Regions from separate parts of the Homo sapiens genome. Here region 1 is linked to region 2. The links come from fine-mapping of genetic effects on gene expression. Tissue or cell type: uterus. Region 2 holds a variant in brackets; the other region holds the start of a gene. All regions are shown on one strand. Distances are between the middles of the regions.

Region 1 (8,000 bases), 890 kb after region 2:
ATCACTTGAAACTGGCAGATGGTGGTTCCAAGTGAGCTGAGATCACACCACTGCACTCCAGCCTGAGTGACAGAGTGAGACTCCGTCTCAAAAATACAAATAAAAAGTTTTAAAAAGTTGCAAAACCTCTGCTTTCTAAGTGCCCCCCAACCAGGTCTCTCGCTTATTCATTCAACAAACACTGCTGAACTGCTACTAAGTCCCAGGGACTGTCATCGGAAAAGGAGGTCCCGATCCAGACCCCGAGAGAGGGTTCTTGGACCCCACACAAGGAAGAATTCGGGGGAGTCCACGGAGTAAACTGAAAGCAAGTTTAATAGGAAAGTAAAGGAATAAGAGAAGGGCTGCCCCATAGGCTGAGCAGCGGCCTGGGCTACTCCGACGAGAACACTTATTGTTGTTTCTTGATATGTACTAAACATGGTGTGGATTATTCCGGACTTTTCCGGGAAAGGGGCAGGCAATTCCCGGAAGTGAGGGTTCTTCCCCCTTTTAGACCATCTAGGGTAACTTCCCGGCATTGCCATGGCAACTGTAAATGGTCCTGGTGCTGGTGGGCGTGTCTCATGCTAATGTATTATAATCAGCACATAATGAGCAGTGAGGACTGGCTGTCTTGGTTTTGGTGGTTTGGGGCCGGCTTCTTCACGGCATCCTGTTTTATCAGCGGGGTCTTTGTGATCTGTATCTTGTGCTGATCTCATCCTGTGACTAAGAATGCCTGACCTCCAGGGAATGCGGCCCAGCCGGTCTCGGCCTCATTTTACCCAGCCCCTGTTCAAGATGGAGTCGCTCTGGTTCGAACGTCTCTGCAGAATCACTCCAGGTTCTTTGGATTCATGGCAAAGGGGCTGCGGCCTCTGCCCCTCCGTGCCCCACTGTGTGTGGGTCCTACAAGCATTGCAGAGGCAGCTGTGGCTGCCCCCACTGCGGTGGAACCCGGGAGACGGGAGTCTTGGGAGGGGCCTCCTCGAGGTCCATTCTAGCCGCTGTACCCCTGGGAAGCTGGCGTGAGGTAGTTTCTGTGGCCTCCCTGGCCCTGATGAGTACGGGACTTTCCACCCAGCCCCCAGAGCTCCTCGCTTCTTTCCCGGTCAGCCTTACGGAGCTTTCCTTCTAGAAGAGGAAGGCAGACATTTAAATAAACACATAGATACTTTCCTGTAGTGATAAATGCTAAGAACAAACTAAAACAGGGTTAGAGTCGCACGTTGCCTCAGATCCACCTGTGGTCAGGATCTGGGAAGGTGACGGATGAGTAGCCTGATGAGGTTTGTAGGGCAGGGTCTGTGTGGCTTGGGGGGTGGTGGGATGGGGCCCCTGGTCCCTTGGGCCCTTGGAGAGGCAGTCCTCTAGGGAGTGGGGGAGGCCAGACCAGGGCCCTCAGGAGACCCTGTCCTTGGGGACCTGGGAGGCTGAAGGGGGCTGGGGTGGGAATGGGTAGCCCTCATTACCTTTCCCGTGCAGCCGCTGGAGGGGCCAGGCTGCTGCAGCCACCCCAAAGAGCCATGCTCCCTTCTCCTGCCTGGCCCCAGGTACTGGGAGACAGGAAGATGCCCTCAGCACCAGCCCCACCCATCCTGCCCCAGGCCCCCAGGATCCCGCTGCCCCAGGCCTTGCTGGGGCAGAGCTGCTTTTCCAGATGCAGACGCACCCTAGCAGGGATTCTCCCCACTCTCCCGCCTGCCCCCCGACCCCCGCCCCCACCTGCCCAGGCATCTGTCCCTTCCCTGGCTCCAGACTTGCCCCAGCCAGTCCCCAAAGGGTTTTCGTCCCTCCCATGCCAGCGCCACCCTCTTTTCCAGGCCACCTGCCTGGAGTCCTTGGTGAATCTTTTGTCCTGTCCAGCATTTACAGAAAGGAAGGCCAGAACCTCACCCTGCCCTCCTCCCCAGCCTGGAATCGGGAGGAGGGGCCGGCACCCACCCCTGGGTGGGCTTAGCCAGCTGGGACAGGAGTGGGTGAGGGGGCTGCCCGAGGGTGGGCCCCATGGAGAGCCCTGTGAGGCCTTCCAGGGGCACATCGGGGTACATCCAAGGCTGCGCTTCCTGGGGGAGGTGGCGTCTGAGCAACTTTCGTCCACAAGCATGTTCCTGCTTGTCCTCCCCAACCGCCTGGCCTTTGTTCCCCAGGAGGGCAGCCGAACTGGGGCCCTGGCAGCCAGCAGGGGAGGGAGTATGTTGGACAGGGGGCTGTGCCCGAAGGCAGGGCCTTCCTAAGTGGCTGAGTAAACAGCGTCAGGTGGCCTCAGCCTGGCCCAGGGGACCAGCTGTGTTCTCCCACCCCCTGCAAGGCTGAAGCTGCCACCATTCAGCTTTTCAGCAGCAGACACTCCACCCCAAAGCCTGCAGAAGGGATTTTGTGAAGAGGGTCACCAGGCTGAGCCTCGGCCAGAACCCGTCTACAGAGGACCCTCAGCCAGAGCAGAAAGCTCCTGAGCCAGCTCCCTTGGGTAACAGAGCCAAGCCCCTCTGAAGGCTAAGTGGTAACTGGAATGGGGGGCTCCAGTTGGCCTGGGACACGGCTGGGGGCAGGCCAGAGGCCTCCACAGTGGATGTAGGATCCCTGCTCCCCCCCAGATGGACTCCCAGAGGCCTGAGCCCAGAGAGGAGGAGGAGGAGGAACAGGAACTGCGGTGGATGGAGCTGGACTCCGAAGAGGCCCTGGGAACCAGGACAGAGGGGCCTAGTGTTGTCCAGGGCTGGGGGCACCTGCTCCAGGCCGTGTGGAGGGGCCCTGCAGGCCTGGTGACGCAGCTGCTGCGGCAAGGTGCCAGCGTGGAGGAGAGGTGCACCTGCGCTGGGGGGTGAAGGGGTCCCTTCTCTGGGTGGGGCAGGATGGGGGTCCCAGCACTGGGTGGGTGGAGGAGTCCCTTCTCTGGATGGGGTAGGACGGGGGTCCCAGCGCTGGGTGGGCGGCAGGACGGGGTGGGGCAGGGCGGGGTTCTGGTCAGTGGTCCACCCCCGCGCCGACGCCCTTGCCCCCTCCTCAGGGACCACGCAGGCCGGACCCCGCTCCACCTGGCCGTGCTGCGGGGCCACGCGCCCCTGGTGCGTCTCCTGCTGCAGCGAGGGGCCCCGGTGGGCGCGGTGGACCGGGCGGGGCGCACCGCGCTGCACGAGGCCGCCTGGCACGGACACTCGCGGGTGGCCGAGCTGCTGCTGCAGCGCGGGGCCTCGGCGGCGGCTCGCTCCGGGACGGGCCTCACGCCGCTGCACTGGGCCGCTGCCCTGGGCCACACGCTGCTGGCCGCGCGCCTGCTGGAGGCTCCGGGCCCGGGACCCGCGGCAGCGGAGGCGGAGGACGCGCGCGGCTGGACGGCGGCGCACTGGGCGGCCGCGGGCGGGCGGCTGGCGGTGCTGGAGCTGCTGGCGGCCGGCGGCGCGGGCCTGGACGGCGCCCTGCTCGTGGCTGCCGCTGCGGGGCGCGGGGCGGCGCTGCGCTTCCTCCTGGCGCGCGGGGCGCGGGTGGACGCCCGGGATGGCGCGGGGGCCACAGCGCTGGGTCTGGCGGCCGCCCTAGGCCGCTCCCAGGTACGTCCCGCCCTCCGCCCGGCAGTGATGGGAGGGGGCGCAGGGCCAGGATCCCCAGAGACGTGCCACCGGGGCAGCTGGAGCCAGGCTGGGGGACGGTGTCCAGGCACGAAGGCCCTGAGCGCGCCCCCGGCTGTGCCCCTCCGGTGTAGCCCCGTCCCGTGGAGACCAGGGCGGGATCCGAGGCCCGGGGCTCGGCTTCATGCTGGTGGCAGCAACAGACTCTCCGCCAGCGCCGGGCCTGTGCCTGAGACCCCCGTTCCTGGGCAGCGGGCAGGGTGTTGGCTGCAGATCCTTGGATTTGCTCTAAGGACTCTTAGGGGGAAAAGTGGACGTTTCCAAGCAGGCCAGCCTTGGGTTCGGCCTCACAACATGAGGAAGTGGTGTCAGGAGAGACAGGCCGCTGCGGGGACAGAAGAGGCCTGGGCTGGGCAAACGCCTGGTGGCTCTGCCCCTCGCCTACCGGGCTGAGGCCGGCCCCTGCTTTTCTCTCCTCTTCTAGGACATTGAGGTGCTGCTGGGCCACGGGGCAGACCCAGGCATCAGGGACAGGCATGGCCGCTCTGCGCTGCACAGGGCTGCCGCCCGAGGACACCTGCTTGCCGTCCAGTTGCTGGTCACCCAGGGGGCCGAGGTGGATGCGCGGGACACCCTGGGCCTCACACCCCTGCATCACGCCTCTCGGGAAGGCCACGTGGAGGTTGCCGGCTGCCTGCTGGACAGGGGTGCCCAGGTGGATGCTACCGGCTGGCTCCGAAAGACCCCCCTACACCTGGCTGCAGAGCGAGGGCATGGGCCTACCGTGGGGCTTCTGCTGAGCCGAGGGGCCAGCCCCACTCTGCGGACGCAGTGGGCCGAGGTGGCCCAGATGCCTGAGGGGGACCTGCCCCAGGCGCTGCCTGAACTTGGAGGGGGGGAGAAGGAGTGTGAGGGCATAGAGTCCACGGGCTGAGCCAGACAGCAGGCTCCAGGCTCCACCGCCCCAGTGATTTCCAGGCTCTCTGGCTGAGGCTGCCTGCCTGGAGGGGACATCAGGGAAGAGGCTTCCGGAGGAGGGGATGGGAGAAAGTAGGGGATGTGGCTTGAGCTGCAGTCACAGGCCTTGGCTGGACCAGGGATGGCCCCCAGCTCCCAGGAGGGCCCACTGACCCTGCAGCTCCAGCCTTCTCCATACTTCAACAAAGAATGAGTTGTGGCAATGAGGGAAGAGAGACCCTCTCATAGTGTTTTATACTCAGTACCTGTTTTAAGAAAAAACAACAAGGAAGTAAAACCAAAGACAGGCAGGCAGCCTGGCGCTAGGCCCGAAACCAGGCCTGCGCCTGCCTGGCCTAAACCCAGTAGTTGAAAATCAATTCATAACTTAGAAACCGATGTTATTCATAGATTCCAGACATTGTATAGAAGAACATTTGTGAAACTCCCTGCCGTGTTCTGTTTCTCTCTGACCGCCGGTGCATGCAGCCCCTGTCACGTACCGCCTGCTTGCTCAAATCAATGACGACCCTTTCATGTGAAATCTTCGGTGTTGTGAGCCCTTAAAAGGGACAGAAATTGTGCACTTGGGGAGCTCGGATTTTAAGGCAGTAGCTTGCCGATGCTCCCAGCTGAATAAAGCCCTTCCTTCTACAACTGGGTGTCTGAGAGGTTTTGTCTGCGGCTCGTCCTGCTACATTTCTTGGTTCCCTGACTGGGAAACGAGGTAACTGACAGACGACCGAGGCAGCCCCTTAGGCGGCTTAGGCCTGCCCCGTGGAGCATCCCTGCGGGGGACTCCGGCCAGCCTGAGTGACGTGAGCTAAAGAGCGCTCCCGGGTAGGAAATTGCCTCGGTGGAACACCTCGCCAGAGCAGCCCATAACGGGCCCCCATGGTGGATTAACACAGTGGCTGAACACCGGGAAGGAACTGGCACTTGGAGTCCGGACATCTGAAACCTGGTAAGACTAGTCTTTGGAACTTGCCCCACTCCACCTGAGTAGACGCGTGGCCTGATCGCCCACGGCGTGCCTGCATTAGCACCTTTGTTCTGGTTTTGACTTGACTGAGATCATGTGATACTTTGGTTTTGGTTTTGACCTGGCTTGGATTTCTGGATACTCTGATTTTGGTTTTGATTTTGGTTTGGTGTAAACTGCAAAAGTGTGTGTGTGCCCTTTTTACCTGTTTTTTGTTTTGTGGTGTGAGCGTGGTGTTTTGTCTTGAAGAAGCGTGGGTCAGGCACAGATAAGCCCACCCCACTAGGAACTATGTTAAAAAAAATTTTTCAAGAAAGAATTTAAGGGAGATTACGGTGTTACTCTGACACCAGGAAAACTTACAACTTTGTGTGAAATAGACTTGTCAGCATTAGAGGTGGGTTGGCCATCAGAAGGAAGCCTGGACAGGTCCCTTGTTTCAAAGGTATGACACAAGGTAACGTGTAAGCCAAGGCACCCAGGCCAGTTTCCGTACATGGACAGTTAGAGCAGGTTTTAGACCCCCTCCCCCCTACGGTAGTTAAGAGAACAGCAGCATAAGCGGCTGGCAGAGGCAAGGAAAGACCAGCAGAGAGAAAAAGAGGCCATCTATACCAATTCTAAGTTAATTTAGACTAAACAAGGTCTTATTAATAGCAAAGGATAATTGAAATCCCAAACTTCCAAGGTTTTCAACAAAAGCGAAGTTTGCTAAAAGTTAACAGTGTAACATGTTAATGGTAACTTTTAATCTTGTGGCCTCAGACAGTCTAGTCCAAAGACATAAAAAAAGTTCGCTTTAAAAAAGAAAAAAAAAGGGGAGGCTGAATTTATGTGAAAAGCATGTTATACGGTAAATTCTTGTCCTGAAATATATTAACTGGTTGTTTAAAAGTTTGTAATAAGGCAGAAAGTTGAGATATGTTGAAGAATTGTCGGCGAAAGTTGTAAAACAAAATGTTATAAAAAATTTATGCAAAAAATGTTGTATAATTTAAAAGTAATAAGGCCTCCTGAGTACTATTTTTTTTTTTTTTTTTTTTGAGACGGAGTCTCACTCTGTTGCCCAGGCTGGAGTGCAGTGGCGTGATCTCGGCTCACTGCAAGCTCCGCCTCCCGGGTTCACGCCATTCTCCTGCCTCAGCCTCCCGAGTAGCTGGGACTACAGGCGCCCGCCACCACGCCTGGCTAATTTTTTGTATTTTTAGTAGAGACGGGGTTTCACCGTGTTAGCCAAGATGGTCTCGATCTCCTGACCGCGTGATCCGCCCGCCTCGGCCCCCCAAAGTGCTGGGATTACAGGCGTGAGCCACCGCGCCTGGCCCCTGAGTACTATTAAAAAAAAAAGTTTATGTGCAAGGTGTACAAGAAAAGTAAAATATACCTTTGGTAAAAAAAATTATAAAGGGGCATAAAAATATGGATTTTTACCTACATTAAAAGGTTAAAAAAATTATTGTTTTTAAGAGTTTAAGCAAGTTTTAAAATGTAAATTGTAAAGAAAATTCTGTGTGTAAACATGTTAACTAAAGTTAAAAAGGTATCGTCCAGTTTTTCTGTGAACTGGACATTAAAGTAAAAATGCAACAGGTTTTTCTTAAAGCATCAACCTGCTCTTTAACAAAAGTTATAAAAGGTTAAAAAGAGTCTATAAAATCTTACCTTATGGTCAAACATGAAAAATTGGATAAATATGTCTACAAGGTTTTATTAAAATTAAGTTTAACATTAATAACACACTAATATAAAGGTAAAATTTAGCTTATCTGGTATAAAAATCATACAAGAAGCATTATTAAATATAAAATGGTGTTTAGCTTTCTTTGGTCTAAAAACTAATAAAAATAGGTGCTAAAGGAAACATTCATTTTACTAGAGGATCATGGAAGTTTAAGACTTAAAACAAACTTTGGCAATTAAGACAGCATACCAAGATGCAAAATGCCTGGTTGAAATGGATCAGATATTCCATCTGATGTTAAACAAAAGCAATTGTGATGCTCGTGCACATGGCAGGCCAAAGGCTCTGATTGTCCCCCTTCCACTAAGGTGGTCCTTCAGTCGACCAGGCGTGGGCTGCACGGTAGCTCTTTTCCAGGATTCTACAGCCTGGAGCAGCAAGTCATGCCAAGCTCTCCCCGCTACATTCTGCAGTCCCTGCGGGTCAGCCCCCGAGGGCCATCCAGCTTCCGTCTCCCAAAACTAAGTTCCCTTCGTGTCTCTCACGGCAGGGAGGAGACTTAGCAGTCCTTGGAGACTGGAAGGGATGCAGTGAGCTTAAGAATTTTCGAGAGCTTATCAATCAGTCAGCCCTTGTTCATCCCTGAGCGGATGTGAGCGGATGTGTGGTGGTATTGTGGTGGACCTGTACTGGGCACTCTGCCGAATAACTAGAGTGGCACTTGTGCTTTAGTCCGTTTGGCTATCCCTTTCACCCTGGCATTTCATCAACCAGAGGAGAAAAAAAAAAAAAGACATCGTAAAGCGAGAGAAGCCCCTTATGGGTCTTT
Region 2 (8,000 bases):
CCCCCTGTGAAAGATCCTTTCCCATCGCCTGCCCCACGCAGGCCAGAACCAGTCCCTGAGTGCCGAGCCCGGGACGGGGTCAAGTGGAAGGATGGGGGCCCGTGGGCTGACCTCGGCTCGCCTGCCCCTGCTCACTGGGCCTGCGTCCGGGACTGGGCGCTGATTCCCGGGCAGCAGCCTCACACCCGGCACTGGGGCCTCAGTGAGTGGACAGACTTGCTGCCGCCGAGCAGCGTCCCTGCGCTGAGGGCGCGGGCCGGGGACAGATGTGGTCCCAAAGGCCTGGAGCAAGTGGTGACGGCCACCAGCCCCGCCCACGGCAGCCATGGTCTCCCAGGCTTCCCGGGCCTCCTCTGCGTGTCAGGGGGAGGGCGGGCAGCTCTTGGTGCTGGAGGTGGAAACACACCGGCTTTGGGGCCAGGGTGGCCATGCCACGTGACCGTCTGACTGCCAACACAGCGGGACATGAGCTGGGCTGAGGCCTCCTCCCAGGCTGGGCAGGGGCTCTGCTGGGCTCCTCCGGACCTGGTGGGCATGGTAGGGGCTGTGTCTGCCTCTGGCCTGCAGGCCACGGCCTACTGGTGCCACCCCTGGGAACCTGAGGCCAGGGACCAGGTGGCGGCTCTCTGGCAAGCTCACAAACACAGTGTGTTGGAGGTGGAGCCCCCAACCCCAGCCAGCCCCTTCTCCTGCCCCAGGAAGAGTCCTGGGGAGAGCTCCAGGTCCCAGCTCCGCCCACCTCCCTGTGCCCCTCCTACCTCCCTGTGCCCCTCCTGTTCCTTTGACCTCCAAACAAGGGAGCAGTGGCCATTCCTCCTTTCCTCCCACCCATGGTTACCAAGCGAAGATGACACCGAAAGAGAGCATCAAGCCAGTTGCTGCCATGGAAGATGGAGTCTGTGAGCCAGAGAAAGACAGAGATACACAGAGAGAGGCAGACACAGAGAGAGTCAGAGAGAGACACACAGAGAGGTAGAGAGACGGGGTGGGGATGGGGGGGGATGCCTGCCTCACCCCTTCAGCAGGGCCTCAGCCAGGACACCCTCCAGACCATGCCCAGGCCCCTTTGGCATTAGCAGAGGACAGCGTAGCCAGGCCACAGCCGGGAACCAGACAGGACCCACCTGACCTGTGTCTCCTTCCCAAAGCCTCTCCCTCTTCGCTCCTGGTGCCTAGCGGAGGGTCGAGACCCCTGTGCAGAGCAGCTCCTCGCAGGCAGGCCTTCCTGGAGGGCCAGGTGCCCAGCCCCATAGGCAGGTTCCTGCACAGCCTGGCCTGGCCTTCCCTGGGAGCCTCAGGCCTGGGCTGAGTAAGCCAGGAGTCGCTGGGCCTGTGGGCTGGCTCAGCAAGACCACAGCTCAGCAAAGTGCGCTCGGGGCTGACCACAGACCCATCAGCCCCTTCGTGTCCTGCCTCCAGGCCCAGGGGCAGCCGGCGAAGGTCAGGCCCAGGGCCTCCCGGATGACAGAGCCCCCAGCTGGGGCTTGCAAGGGGAGCTGCCAGGCCCAGGGCTGCCGGCCCTTCAGCGAGCCCTGGGGAGTCTGCCTGGGGCCAGGGTGGTGCCTGGCTGCCCTCTTGTCCTCAGCTTGACCTCTGGCGGTGGCACTCGTGAAAATGCTGGACACTCCTTCTCCTTGTACTTCCACCTCCCGCCCACGGCAACCAGAGCCAGGAGCCAGGCTGTGGGGGCTCCGAACACAGCTCCAGGGCCAGCAGGGCCTCCTCAGTCTGTGGCGCCGCCTTCCTGAGGACCCGTGGGGAACAGAGGTAGCTGCCCACACCAGCCCCCCAGCCTCCTTGGCTCCTGAGGTGGACCACAGCCAGGGAGGGCCCCCCAACAAGGGTCCAGGCCCTGCCCACCCCTGCCTTACAGCCCAGGAGTCCCCAGGGGGCAGGCCAGGACTCAGCCCCAGCTCTCTCTGCCCCTGCGCCCAGCTGCCCAGCCCAGTGGCTGCTCCCTGGAAACCCCTCGGGGACTGCATCTTGGCTCCCCAGTGGCCTCAGGGAACCAGCAGCCGTTCTCCGGCCTATCTGCAGCCAGGCCCCGTCCTGGAGACCCTGTCCCGCTGCCCCAGACCTGACCCCACTGGGTCCTCATCCACCCACACGTCGAGCATGTCCCCTGCTAGGGCCCCACCTGCCGGCTTCCATCTGGGGACAGGAGAGAGGACACGCATGGGCTCCACGGTCCTGCCCAGGCAGAGAGAGGCAGGCTGAGCACCACGGGGCTGCTATACCCCTGATGGGGTTAGCGGGAGGGGAGGCTCAGTGCCTGGGAACCTGAGGGCATTTCCTTCCACGGAGCTCCAAGCAGAAGCGGCCTGGGGCGCAGCCAGGCTCCCTGCTAGGAGGGCGGGTTTCAGGCCCACAGCTCAGAGCATGGGTGGGGTGCCTGGGCTGGGGGTCCCTGGGCTGATGGCCTGAGGGAGATAGGAGGCCAGGCCTGCAGGGAGCCAGGGGGCCCGTGAGGAGGAGAGACAGCTCTAAGCGGCAGGCCTCGGCGAGACCGCCTGTGTCTCATGGTCTCCTGTGGTTGGATCCACCGAGTCCCCCAGGTCCCTGCGGGTTGTGGCGAGTGGGCTCACGGAGAGAGGGCGGCCTGCGCCCACCTCCCCAGCAACGACTTGGCGGCTGGGGCCTGCGGGCCGGGATGGGGGGTGTGGTGGTTCTTCCCGGGAACGGACCCCCAACTGAGCAGAACAGGGAGGCCGCGCCCCAGAGAGAAAAGCACCCGAACCCGCCAGGCTGGGACCTTCCGGGAGGGCAGGGTTGGCAGGGACCCCCCAACCCCGAGCTCGGCCGAGCTGCAGTTCCCGCTTCCACCGCTGGGGGTCGCACCGCCGCCCCCGCCCCCGCCCCCGCCCCCACCGTGCCGCGGGCGGCGAAACCCGTGAAACGCGCGCCGCCTCCGCGGGGCCTGGGGTGGGGAAGGGGGGACGAGCGGGGGAAGAGGGGTACGGGGGGGAAGGGGGAACGGGGGGGGCGCTTCCTGCCGCCGCCCTGCTTCCCGCAGCGGCCTCTGGGGGCGGCCGCGCCCACCGACGGGAGGAGCCGCAGCCTCTGAGACCCCCGCACGTAGCCCGCCGGTTCGGGGGCGGAATTCCCACCTCGGGAGCCGCCCCCACGCTGCAGGAAGCTCCCAGGGCCTCCCGTCCCGCCCCCCAGCCCGGGCCTGCTGCTCGGACCAGCCGCCCCCGGGCCGGAAGCCCCCGCCCCACCCCGCCGGAATCCAGCGCTGGCCGCGAATCTGGGGGGCGCCGCCCCGGACGGCAGGGAGGGTGGGGTAGCGGAAGAGGCGGCGGGGGCGGGGGGGAAACTGAGGCTGCGGGGGGGAGCCTGAGGCTGCGGGGCTGCCCCTCCGCGTGGGGAAGTGGGGCCCGGCGCGCTCCGCCTGACTCGGGGCCCCCAGTGCCCCCGGACTGGGAACGGAACGGGCGTCGGGGAGGCCGCCCCGGCCCTGAGGACGCGGCGCGGGGCCCGGGACGTGCACCCCTCCCCACCCCCCCAGCGCGGCTTCCGGCCCGGGCGAAGGAGCGGGATTGGGAAGGTTTCGGAGCCGGCGCTGGAATTCCTGGGTAGTTCCTCCGCCACCGCCCTTCCCCCGCGAGGCCGGCCTCCGACGGGGCCTCTCCAGGGTGAGGGGCAGGCCCTGGCCTGGAGCCAGAAACAGGATTTCCCCGGATGCCAGGACAGCGCCAGGGCCGGGGACAGGCCGGGGCCCCACTGCGGGTTTTCTGTCCTGCGCAGCAGTGACCCCGCAGACTTCGCGCACGGGGCGCAGGATGGGGTAGGGGGCCCAGAGCCTTGGTCTGTCGGACCCTCAGCGGCCAGCGCAGGTCGGTGGTCATTTCGGAGTTCCGGCCACTGTCCTGT[G/T]CAGGAGTGACCCTGGAGGCCGCCTTGGTTTGGCCTGGGAGGATTCTAAACACGGAGGGGCCAACACCGAGACCCGAGAGACCCCGGCCTAAACCTGACCCAGTGCCGGCCACACCAGCCACGGCCCTCCTGGCATCCCTGGGATCACAGAATGGGACAGCCTCCCCACCCACAATCCCCCCAGGCCCTGGCGAGGGCAGCTCCTCCGACGCTACAGCCTTTTTCCTAGGACTGTTTTTCCTTAGAAACAGGAAGCTGGGGCATGGGCATCACGTCCCTCGGGTGCAGGCCCCACCAGGGGCAGGGCAGAGTGGGGCTGGACCACAGGGCACACAGTACCTTGCCCAGCTCCTGCCCCAGGGTGGGCACAGCAGGGCGCAGGGCGGTGTCCATCTGCAACTGGTAGCCTGGCCTAACCTGGGCATAGCACCGACCAGGGTCATTTCACCCAGCTGGGGGCATCTCCATGAGGGAGGACACGCAGAGCTCCATCGTCTGTCCCTGGTTCCTGCTTGCCCTCCACCAAGACCCCAGCCTGGCCAGGCCCACCTTGCAGGAAGGGCCAGAAGGTTCCGACAGCAGAGAGGGGGACAGGGCTGTCAGGGAGAATCTGGCAGGGCCAGGCCAGGGGGGCAGCAGCTGGCACTGGCCAGGGTACACGGGACCCTCCAGGGTTCGGGGCTGGTGGCCTGCCCGGCCCCCACCAAGGCCTCTAGACGGCCCTCGACCCTCCACACCCCTGGTCTCTCGTTCTAGATCTGGATGGCACCCAATCCTGGTTTCTGGGCTGAGCTGGGCAGCCAGGAGCCCACCCTTCCAAGCCAGCCAGTTGTATCTCCACGGGGCCTGGGCACTTGGCACCCCTATACCTAAGAGTGTCCTTGGGACAGCTGCGGGGAGGGGCAGGAGACTGGGAGACACTGCTGCCTGGGCTGACCCAGGGAGCCCCTGCCTCCAGCCCCTACCTCCCCACCTCCCCACGGTTCCCTGTCCCTGGAAGTTTCTGGAACAGGCCTCCTTTGCAGGAGGAGCCATGGAGGCCGAGCCTGGGCTGCACTTCTTGCCAGTAAGAGCTGCCAGGCCCGGCCATGGGAGAGAAAGGTCCGTTCCCAGCCCGGCTGGACACCTGGCCCAGCACAGGACACTGCAAAGACAAGCCAGGCTGGCCAGGCTGCCCCTGCCGGTCCTCACCCGCAGCGGGGCCACCTGCTCCAGGGCTGGGTGCCCCAGCCATTGAGGCCCCCACCCACCTGGCACAGGCCAGGCACAGATGGCCATGTGCGTCACTGAGACCGGGGGGTGGCAGGGCTGGGCGGGCATCCAGTCCCCAAATGTTCTGTCCTCACCCCCTCCCCAGGGTCCGCTGTGGGTGGAGTAGACAGGGCAGTTTCTGTGGGGAGGGTCGGGACCCCCCCGGGGCCAACACATCAGGGTCACGACCCCATCATTTCTGGAGGGCAGGCGGCCCTGGCCTGGGGGTGTCCCTGTGGGCTCCGCACCTCCTTCCAGCGGAGGCTCCGTGGGGTCAGAGGCCGGGTCGCCTGGAGCAGGACCAGCAGCTGTGCAGAGGCTACGAGAACAGAGTGGGTGGGGGCTGCCTCTTCCTGGCCAGAAGGAAGTGGGGGAGTCAAAGCAGGTGCTGGGACGTGGGGGTGGCCAGGCCTGGGCCAGGATGGGGTCGGGGTCTGGGCCTGTGGGCTGGGGCAATGGGTAGAGCCCCTCATGCAGCCATGAGGGGGTGTCCAGCTTGGGGGCCCCTGGCCATGCCCTTGGAGCACTGCGCTGGGGCAGGAGGGCGGGTTGGGGGTGAAGTGAGGGAGGAGCCGGGTCCCTGCTTAGGCTTAGGGCTGGGGCCGGACACGCGGGGCTGAACCAGTGGCTGCAGTAACTGGTCAGCAGTCTCCACTCCCCACCTAGGACGTGCTGGCCGCTGCCTCCCCAGACAAGGTCAGGCTGCTCAGCCGTTGTCGGCCCCCTTGACCACAGGCTGGTGGGTGAAGGCTGGCAGGACTGTGGCTCCAGGAGGAGGGGGAGACCAGCACAGCTGAGACCTAAGGACAGCTGTTGGTGACTGAGGCAGAAATGGGTGGGGCACAGGGTGGGGCAGAAACTAGGGAGGTGGGGGAGCCCCCATCCCCTTCCCTGAGCTCATCTTCCCCAGACCCCAGCTCTTGGGGGCTTGGGAACAGGCACTGCCAGGAACAGGGGTACTGGGAGCTGCCCTTCCAGGGAGCTGAGGCTGGAGGGCTAACCCGTGGTCCCTGCAGAGGCCCAGGCAGGTGTGAATGCTGGGAGTCCTGAGCCTGAGGATGCAGAGGTAGGGTGGGGAGGGCCATCTCTCTCCCCCCACCTCTGCCCTCCCCTGGCATGGAGGCAGGGAGCTTCTCCCACCCAGGCCTCCTCTCCCCCAGCACTCAGGAGACCCCTGGATCCCTTCGGAACAGCTTTGGGAAGAGGGTTCTGACCCTGGGTGACGGCTGGCCTAGCTCAGCAGGTGGCCAGAGCCCTTTAAAGCTCTAAGTTTATACCCAAAGGTAAACACCAAAGAGAAGCCTGGGGCAGCTTGGGGAACAACTGAGCCCAGAGCACCGCCCCTCCCTGCCCCCACGTGGCTGCTGGAGGCAGTGCCTTTGAGTCTCCGGGAGGGTCGGGAGGGCCGTCATCAAGCCCTGCGGTGCTCAGCTCCGAGGCAGAGTGCCCATGTGGCCACAGGGACGGTCCTCGAGGCCCACCCAGGACCTCGGCCCAGCCCTTCCCCAACTCCTCCCCACTGCACTGGACCCCGGGCTGGTCCTCTGTGCTCACAACTGACTCAGTCTCAGGGTCCTGCCAGCGGCACTCTGGAGCCGCCCATCCTCTGCCCCCCAGAACATGCACGTGCCCAGGACCAGTCCACACCCACTCCTGCTGTGGCCCATGTTCCCCTCGGCCCACGCCCCTGCCCACTGCCCCCAACACCCAGGGGCCTAGCCTGGATGGAGAAGCCAGGCCCATGTGGAGTGGGTGTTTTGAGGCCTGCTGGGGTAGGCCTGTGTGGTCTAGAGGCCGCCCTGTACCCTCCGTGGGGGCTCTATGAGCCCTTTGGGGCCCTGGGCAGGGAAGAAGGAAGCCCCTATGTGGCAGTGAGGGGAGGGCCAGGTCTGCTCTAGCCCCAAGCTTGGGGGCACTTCCCGAGGGGTGGAGAGAAGAGATGGGGACCTGGAAATTGTGCCGGGAGGCTGGGGGGAGGGGCCGGCTGGAGCCCCTACCAGCCCATGCCTTTCTCGGACCACAACCCAGATGACCTATGAGGGCCTGGATGGGCTGGAGATGCTGGATGTGATGGCCTAAGGAAGCCTAGAGAGGTGGTGGCCTGGCACCCCAGGGAGCCCACCCGGGGCTGTGCCTCCATGAAATTGGCATGCGGCATGGCACCTCCAATCCCCAGAACAGGGGTCTGGGAAGGCCCCCCTGTGAGGTCAGGTGGGGAGAAGGGACCTCTGTGTCTCCCTCGGGGCAGCTCGCTGGGGTCCAGGGTTCTGATGCCACCTCCCCTCTCCCCCGCAAGTAACCCAGGAGCTCCTCAGGGAGCTGGCGATCCACCCCTTGGGGACAGGTCTGTCCGTGCGGGAGCTGGACCTTGGCCAACCGCAGGTGCGGCCTCAGAGGCCCCCGTGGAGGCCCAGCCGGGAAGGCCCCATCCCATCTTCTGTCCTGGCACTGCACTCTGTGGGGCTTCCTCCCAGCCGGCCCAAGGCCACGGTGGCCTCAAGCCAGGGCTCCAGCCACATCCAGTGCTACAAGCAGGGACTGCAAGCTCCCTGAATCGCAGAGGAAACCGTGGCCTTGCCCAGCTCAGAGGGGACGGGGACTAGGTGAGAGGGCAGTTGTGCCAGGGCGGCCGCCTGGACCCCACGTGCCCTCGGGGTCGACGGAGACTCCGAGGCCCACAATCTGACCTGTGACAGCACCCCCACCCACGATGGCCTGAAAGCGAGGGGGTCCCAGCCGCCCGTGTGTGGCCGGTCTGGGGAGGGGCTGTGGTGGGCGCACGCACAGCTGTCCCGCGGTCCTCTCAAAGTCCTTTATTGTACAATGTCATCTGTTTCGGGGTCGGGGAAGGACTAACAGGTACACAGCGAAATAGA

What was found. PIP is the estimated chance that this variant, and not a neighbour inherited with it, causes the effect.
Region 1: ANKRD65-AS1 starts here. The variant in region 2 is fine-mapped to the expression of ANKRD65-AS1 in uterus (GTEx, PIP 0.98).

Annotation. Positions count from the first base shown.
Region 1 is chr1:1,415,585-1,423,584 of GRCh38, reverse strand. It overlaps ANKRD65-AS1 (ANKRD65 antisense RNA 1), which reads right to left and starts at 3,419. Exons shown (of 2, transcript NR_187360.1): 1 at 3,021-3,419; 2 at 298-1,116. It overlaps ANKRD65 (ankyrin repeat domain 65), which reads left to right and starts at 2,309. Exons shown (of 4, transcript NM_001145210.3): 1 at 2,309-2,452; 2 at 2,580-2,788; 3 at 2,993-3,533; 4 at 4,036-5,165. The coding sequence starts at 2,580. The coding sequence ends at 4,485. RefSeq lists enhancers at 4,640-5,089, 5,257-5,336.
Region 2 is chr1:2,310,136-2,318,135 of GRCh38, reverse strand. It overlaps SKI (SKI proto-oncogene), which reads right to left. Exons shown (of 7, transcript NM_003036.4): 7 at 7,923-8,000. It overlaps LOC124903824 (a long non-coding RNA gene), which reads right to left and starts at 3,141. Exons shown (of 4, transcript XR_007065362.1): 1 at 3,108-3,141; 2 at 2,138-2,190; 3 at 1,125-1,744. RefSeq lists enhancers at 2,075-2,828, 4,309-4,962 and silencers at 2,700-2,989, 3,140-3,299, 3,390-3,509. The variant G/T (reference allele first, on the strand shown) is at 3,874.